Linked DNA regions of Homo sapiens. The protein of the gene in region 2 purifies or fractionates together with the protein of the main gene of each other region. This does not show direct contact. Each region holds a gene or a part of one and is shown on either strand. Other genes may lie near its edges.

Evidence for each region. The genes of interacting proteins can lie anywhere in the genome.
Region 1: the proteins of TRIM22 (region 2) and DTL purify together in Homo sapiens (affinity purification with western blotting; one study listed by BioGRID). This does not show direct contact.

Annotation. Positions count from the first base shown.
Region 1 is NC_000001.11:212,094,748-212,098,247, forward strand, and holds part of DTL (denticleless protein homolog), read left to right. Parts: intron 1-3,500. UniProt on the Homo sapiens protein: Substrate-specific adapter of a DCX (DDB1-CUL4-X-box) E3 ubiquitin-protein ligase complex required for cell cycle control, DNA damage response and translesion DNA synthesis.
Region 2 is NC_000011.10:5,708,037-5,712,288, reverse strand, and holds the end of TRIM22 (E3 ubiquitin-protein ligase TRIM22), read right to left. Parts: intron 4,117-4,252; coding exon 4,016-4,116; intron 3,713-4,015; coding exon 3,686-3,712; intron 3,237-3,685; coding exon 2,641-3,236; 3' UTR 1,426-2,640; downstream 1-1,425. UniProt on the Homo sapiens protein: Interferon-induced E3 ubiquitin ligase that plays important roles in innate and adaptive immunity.

The DNA of each region.
Region 1 (3,500 bases), on a different chromosome or scaffold from region 2:
TTCCATTTGTTTGTGTCATCTGATTTCTTTTAGCAGTGTTTTGTAGTTTTCCTTGTAGAGGTCTTTTACTTCCTTAGTTAGGTATATTCCTAGGTTTTGCAGCTATTGTAAAAGGGGTTGAGTTGTTGATTTGATTTGCAGCTTGTTTGCTGTTGCTGTATAGCAGTACTACTGATTTATGTACATTGATTTTGTATCCTGAAACCTAACAGAATTCATTTATCAGATCTAGGAGCTTTTTGGATGAGTTTTTAGGGTTTTCTAGGTATACAATCATATCATTTACTAACAGTGACAGGTTGACTTCCTCTTTACCAATTTGGATGCCTTTTAATTTCTCTTTTCTGACTGACTGTGGCTGGCTAGGGCTTCCACTACTATGTTGAATAGAAGTGGTGAAAGTGGGCATCCTTGTCTTTTTCCAGTTCTCATGGGGAATGCTTTCAACTTTTCCCCGTTCAGTATAACGTTGGCTGTGGGTTTGTCATGGATGGCTTTTATTACCTTCAAGTATGTTCCTTCTATGCTGATTTTGCTGAGTGTTTTCATCATAAAGGGATGCTGGATTTTGTCAGACGTTTTTTCTGCTTCTATTGAAGTGATCATGTGTTTTCGTTTGTTTTTCTCTTAGAGTTTCGCTCTTGTTGCCCAGGCTGGGGTGCAGTGGTACCATCTCAGCTCACTGCAACCTCCACCACCCAGGTTCAAGGGATTCTCCTGCCTCAGCCTCCCAAGTAGCTGAGATACCACATCTGGCTAATTTTTGTATTTTTAGATGGGGTTTCACCATGTTGGCCAGGCTGGTCTCAAACTCCTGACCTCAAGTGATCTGCCCTCCTCGGCCTCCCAAAGTGCTGGGATTACAGGCATGAGCCACCGCACCCGGCCTGATTTTTGTTTTTAATTCTGTTTATATGGTGTATCACATGTATTGACTTGTGTATATTAAACTTTCCCTGCATCCCTGGTTTGAAATCCATTTGATCATGGTAGATTATCTTTTTGATATACTGTTGGATTTGGTTAGCTAGTATTTTGTTGAGGATTTTTGCATCTATGTTCATCAGGGATATTGGTCTGTAGTTTTCTTTTTTGTCATGTCCTTTCCTGGTTTTGGTATTAGAGTGATACTGGCTTCATAGGATGATTTAGGGAGTATTCCCTCTTTCTCTTTTGGAATGGTTTCAGTAAGATTGGTACCAGTTCTTCTTTGAATGTCTGATAGAATTCAGCAGTGAATCCATCTGGTCCTGGACTTTTTCTTCTTGGCAATTTTTTTATTACCATTTCAATCTAAGTGCTTGTTATTGGTCTGTTCAGAGTTCTTATTTCTTCCTGGTTTAATCTAGGAGGTTGTATATTTCCAGGAATTTATCCATCTCCTCTAGGTTTTCTAGTTTGTGAGCACAAATGTGTTCATAGTAGCCTTGAATGATCTTTTGTATTTCTGTGGTATTCGTTGTTAATATTTCCTGTTTCATTTCTAATTGAACTTATTTGGATCTTCTCTCTTCTTTTCTTGGTTAATCTCACTAATGGGCTATCAATTTTGTTTATCTTTTCAAAGAACCAGCTTTTTGTTTCATTTATCTTTTGTATTTTGTTGTTGTTGTTTCATTTTTATTAAGTTCTACTCTGGTCTTTGTTATATCTTTCCTCCTCCTGGGTTTGGGTTTGGTTTGTTCTTATTTCTCTAGTTCTTGAGGTGTGACCTTAGATTGTCAATTTGTGCTCTTTCAGACTTTTTGATGTAGGCACTTAATGCTGTGAACTTTCCTCTTAGCACTGCTTTTGCTGTATCTTAGAGGTTTTGTTAGGTTGTGTCACTTTTTTCATTCAGTTCAAAGAATTTTTTTAATTTCCAGCTTGATTTTGATTTCATTATTGACCCAAAGATCATTCAGGAGCGGATTATTTAATGTTGCATGGTTCTAAGAATTCCCTTTGGAGTTGACTTCCAATTTTATTCCACTATGGTCTGAGAGAGTACTTGATATAATTTTGATTTTCTTAAATTTATTGAGACTTGTTTTGTGGCCTATCATATGGTCTCTATCTTGGAGAATGTTCCATGAATGTTCTGATGAATAGAATGTATATTCTGCAGTTGTTGGGTAGAATGTTCTGTAAATACCTGTTAAGTCCATTTGTTCTAGGGTATAAGTCCATTGTTTCTATGTTGACTTACTGTATTGAAGTCCCCCACTATGAGATGAGATTCTATTTTTGTGTATTTCAAGGTTTTGCTCTAAGATTTAGAACTCCTTTTAGCAGTTTTTGTAAACTATGCTGGCTTGGTAGTGGCAAATTCTCTCAGCGTTTGAAAAAGACTTTCATCTTTTCTTCATTTATGAAGCTTAGTTTCACTGGATACAAAATTCTTGGCTGATAATTATTTTGTCAGCTAATAATTATTTAATAAGGCTAAAGATAAGACCTTTATCCCCTCTAGCTTGTAGAGTATCTGCTGTTAATCTGATAGGTTTTTCCTTTACAGGTTACCTGATGCTTTTGCCTCCCAGCTCTTAAGATTTTTTCCTTCATCTTGACTTTAGATAGCCTGATGACTGTGTGTCTAGGTGATGATCTTTTTGTGATGAATTTCCTGGGTGTTCTTTGAGCTTCTTGTATTTGGATGTCTAGATCTCGAGCAAGGCCAGAGAAGTTTTTATTCTTTTGCCTTTGTCTTTGTTGAATTGGGTTAATTCAAGAGCCTTGTCTTTGAGCTCCAAAATTCTTTCTTCTACTTGTTTGGTTCTATTGTTAAAACTTTCCAGTGTATTTTGCATTTCTCTAAATGTGTCTTTCATTTCCAGAAGTCATGATTGTTTTTTATTTATGATATCTATTTCTCTGGAGATTTTTTTCGTCTACATCCTGTTTTGTTTTATTTTTAAATTTAAGTTGGTTTTCATCTTTCTCTGGTGCTTCCTTGAGTAGCTTAATAATTGACCTTCTAAATTCTTTTCTGGCAATTCAAAGATTTATTATTGGTTTGGATCCATTGCTGGTAAGCTAGTATAATCTTTTAGGGGTGGTTATAGAACCTTGTTTTGTCATATTACCTGAATTGTTTTTCTGGTTCCTTCTCGTTTGGGTGGACTATGTCAGAAGAAAGATCTGGGACTCAATGTGTGCTGTTTAAATTCTTTTGTCCCACAGAGTGATCCCTTGGTGTGGTGCTCTCCCCCTTCCCTAGGGGTGGGGCTTTCTGAGAGCTGGACTGCAGTGATTGTTATTGCTCTTCTGGGTCGAGCCACCCAGCAGAGCTACTGGGTTCTAGGCTGGTACTGGAGAGTGTCTGCTAAGAGTCCTGTGATGTGATCTGTCTTCAGGTCTGTATGCCATGGATACTAGCACCTGCTCTAATGGAGGTGGTAGGAAAGGAGTGAAGTGGACTGTGTGAGAGTACTTGGTTGTAGTTTTATTTAGTGTACTGGTTGTCTTGAATGCTAGTTATACTAGCACTGAAGTTATTACATGGACAGACTCAGGACCTC
Region 2 (4,252 bases):
TAACAGCTTATTGACTCCTTCAACCCCTTTATATAAATTTCTCTTTGGCCAGGCACGGTAGCTCACGCCTGTAATCCCAGCACTTTGGGAGGCCAAGACAGGCAGATCACCTGAGGTCAGGAGTTCGAGATCAGCCTGGCCAACATGGCGAAGCCCCATCTCTACCAAAAATACAAAAAAAATTAGCCGGGCATGGTGGCACGTGCCTGTAATCCCAGCTACTCGGGAGGCTGAGGCAGGAGAATTGCTTGAACCCAGGAGGCAGAGGTTGCAGTGAGCAGAGATTGTGCCATTGCAGTGAGCCGAGATCGTCCCATTGCACTCCAGCCTGGGCAACAACAGCAAAATTCCGTCTCAGAAAAAAAAAAAAAAATCTCCTTTTTATGATATTTGTACAGATTATCTTGGATAATGTTCATGTGTGTATCTATAATATATTTATACATATTATTATATGTATATATACCTATATGTATAGATATATGAATGAATGTGTATACATGTCTATATCAATCTCAAGCCAGGCACTTTCACACTATTCCTTTCTTCAAAGTCCAACAAATCTTGATGTGAATTCTGTACAATGGCATAACCTGCCCTAATTTATAATGTATACATGATGGTTAATTTTACATGCTAATTTGACTGGTCATAGATTGCCCGGATTAAACATTATTTCTGGTGGTATTTGTAAGGGTATTTCTGGTTGTATTTGTAAGGGTGTTTCTGGTTGTATTTGTAAGGGTGTTTCTGAAAAAGATTAGCACCTGAATAGCTGGACTCAGTAATGGCTACCTCTCCAAAGCTTGCCCTCCCCCAAGTTGCTGGACATCATCTAATCCATAAAGGATCTGAGTAGGAGAAAGGGTTGAGGAAGAAGATATTTGCTTCTTTTCCTGCCGCAGTACTTGAGCTGAGACATGTCACCTCATCTTTTTCTGCCTTTGTACTGGCATTTATACCATCAGCTCCCTGGTTCTTAGGGCTTCAGAGACACACTGACTTATATCACCAGCTTTTGGGTCTCTGGTTTCCAAATGGCAGATAATGGGAAGTCTTAGCCTCCATAATCAAGTAAGCCAATTCCTCATAATAAATACATATCTCTTATTGTTCTGTTTCTCTGGAGAACCCCGACTAATACAATATATTTCTTCAAGAATGTTTTGTGTCTTTGCTATCCTAGGTAGTTCTACTACTCATCCTGTGTTTGAAAAAAGACTTAAAAAAAAAAAAAAAGAAAAGTACCTAGGATGGTAAATGCAATGGTACACACAAGTGTTTCATTACGAGAAACAGATCTGAACAGCATAAGGCTGTCTCTTATCAAGGACAGCTGAGCCTAGACATGACCTTCTTTACTGGACATATGGAAACTCATATTATCTGCAGCAAGATTTTGGAAACTGAAGAATGAGACTTCAGTAGAGCCAGCTATTGTTTTATTGAAGCAAAAAGAAAACAGAACAAAAACAAAAAATTGTTTCCCAAGACATTGAAATGGCTGACATCTTTTCAGTAATAATCAGAACAATATTTATTTTTATATTTAAAATTCATAGAAAAGTGCCTTACATTTAATAAAAGTTTGTTTCTCAAAGTGATCAGAGGAATTAGATATAGTCTTGAACACCAATATTAATTTGAGGAAAATACACCAAAATACATTAAGTAAATTATTTAAGATCATAGAGCTTGTAAGTGAAAAGATAAAATTTGACCTCAGAAACTCTGAGCATTAAAAATCCACTATTAGCAAATAAATTACTATGGACTTCTTGCTTTAATTTTGTGATGAATATGGGGTGTCACTGGTAAACCAACACATTCTGAAGGATACATTACTTAGTGATAGATTCTTATGTACTTTGCTAGATAACGTGGATATGAGTTGACAAGTTTCTCTTTCTTCAATCTTTTAAGGGGCAGAGGAAATGAGGAAGAAAAGAAAAGGAATTACAGCAATACTGTTCTTTCTATAGGAAGGATTAGATATGTTTCCTTTGCAAATATAAAAAAAATAATAATGTTTACTACTAGTGAAACCAAGGTATTAGGAAAATAATGTACAAGCATCTCTTGCAAGAAAGGGTAAGATTGTTATGAGTGAAATCGTGCCTTCCTCAAATTTATATGTTGGAGTTTTTATTCCCAATACCTCCAAATATTATCTTATTTGGAAATAAGGTCTTTGTAGAGAATATAATGTTAAAATGATTTCATTAAGGCATTAGCGGTGGGCCCTGAGCCAGTATGACTGGTGTCTTAATAAAAAGGGAAAACTTGGGCACAGAGATGTACATAAAGACAATGTGAAGAGTCATAGGGACAAGATGCCTTCTACAAGCCAAGGAGAGAGGCATGGAACAGAGCCCTTCCTTGCAGACCTCAGAAAGAACCAACTCTGCTGGAATCTAGATTTGGGATTTCCAGCCCACAGTACGGCAATACAATTACAGTTTAAATCAGCAATCTATGATGCTTTGCTATGGAAGCCCTAGCAAATGAATACAAAGACATTCTAAGTAAAAGAAGGGGAAAGAAAGGAAGAGATGGTCTCAGTAGAGATGAACTCAGGTGCAGAATCTGAGTCTCAGCACAAGGGCTACTATGCAGAAGTGGGTAAAGGAATGAGAACACTCAGGAGCTCGGTGGGCACACAGTCATGGGGACTAGGCAGTTCCAAGGATTGAAATACGGATAAGCAGGTCGAGAAAAGCGACATCCAGAGAACTTGTAGATGAGTGCTCCGTGGTTTGTGACATTGAAAAATGAGACAATGCCTGCCTCATAGTCTAGGAAAACCCCAATACGACAGGGAGGCACAGCCATAAAGAGAGTCAAAACCTTGGGATCAGAAGAGGAGGAGTCCTCAAAAGCATTATATTCACATGTATTCTGTAATCCTATAACCCAGTAGCCATATTGAGGTCTATATCTGGAGTAAACTTTTGAATAATTTACACTTGGATCAAAAGCAAACCCAGAGCTCTTCCTTTTATTCAGACTACTTATTTTACTGTGTACGCCCAGGATCCAGGCAATCTTTCCAGACACATCTACTTCCCAGTAATATTTCCCCGAAGAGAAATATTGGCAGCCGAAGACACCAAAAGCAGAAAAATCACATGGATTTGAATTCTTAAATGTGCAGGTGCGTACAGTTTTCACTTGTCTCTGATCCACAGAAATAGCAACATTCGAAGTGGCACTGCCTGGATTCAGCATCACGTCCACTGTAGAAAAAATTACCAAGTCAAGTGAAGGATATGGGATAGGTGTGTCTTACAGCATTGAGAAGAGACATATTGAAAATGAAACTTGTGTCGATATCAAACGGAACTTGTGTTGATAGTCAGAGGTTAGTAGGACCCTTAAGAAATACAGGGTGTAAGACTATAAAAATTAGCCAAGCGTGGTGGCACACGCCTGTAATCCCAGCTACTTGGGAGGCTGAGGCAGCAGAATCGCTTGAACCCAGGAGGCAGAGGTTGCAGTGAGCCGAGACCGCGCCATTGCACTCCAGCCTGGGCAACAATAGCAAAAATCTATCTTAAAAAAAAAAAAAAAAAGAACTACATGGTTTAAGCATGTTTGGGGAGGAACACATGAGACTCAGATTATGAGATCTAATAGTAACCACAATTCTGAAAGGAAGTGATTTGAAAACCCCATATCATCTTACCCCAGTAGTACTGGACATCTGTCAGCTCTGAAACGACAAAAGTTTCAGTGATGTTGTTAGAAGCAAATAAGTAAGTACTGACACCTGTCTCTTCTCCAGAGTAGGGAAAGGAAAGGGGGAATACTGGGATTCTTTGCACTGGTGAATGAGAGGATGAATCAGACACCTGGTCATTCCCCCTAAGACAGGACCACATCTACAGCACAGGATTTTCCTCCTTCTCTGGCCCACCTCCTCTCCTATATCCTAACCTAAAAAAACCTCCCGCTTCCCTATTGAGCCCTGATACTAAGAAATCCACATTCACAGCCTTCCCCTGAATCCCCTTACCTTTAAGAACTTGCAGCATCCCACTCAGATCTGGTACTCGGAATACACTCTTTAGTTTCTTGGAAACAGATTTTGGCTTCTTCAATGTCCAGCTTTCACTCCTAGTGATAACAAAAATTGATAACCTTTACACCTTTGCCCTATTTCTCTCCATCCAAGATCACTGTCTCTTTCACCTTTCACCATACTTGCTGACGCACTTGGACCCTCTTCCCTGAGGACAGTAGAGGGGAGATG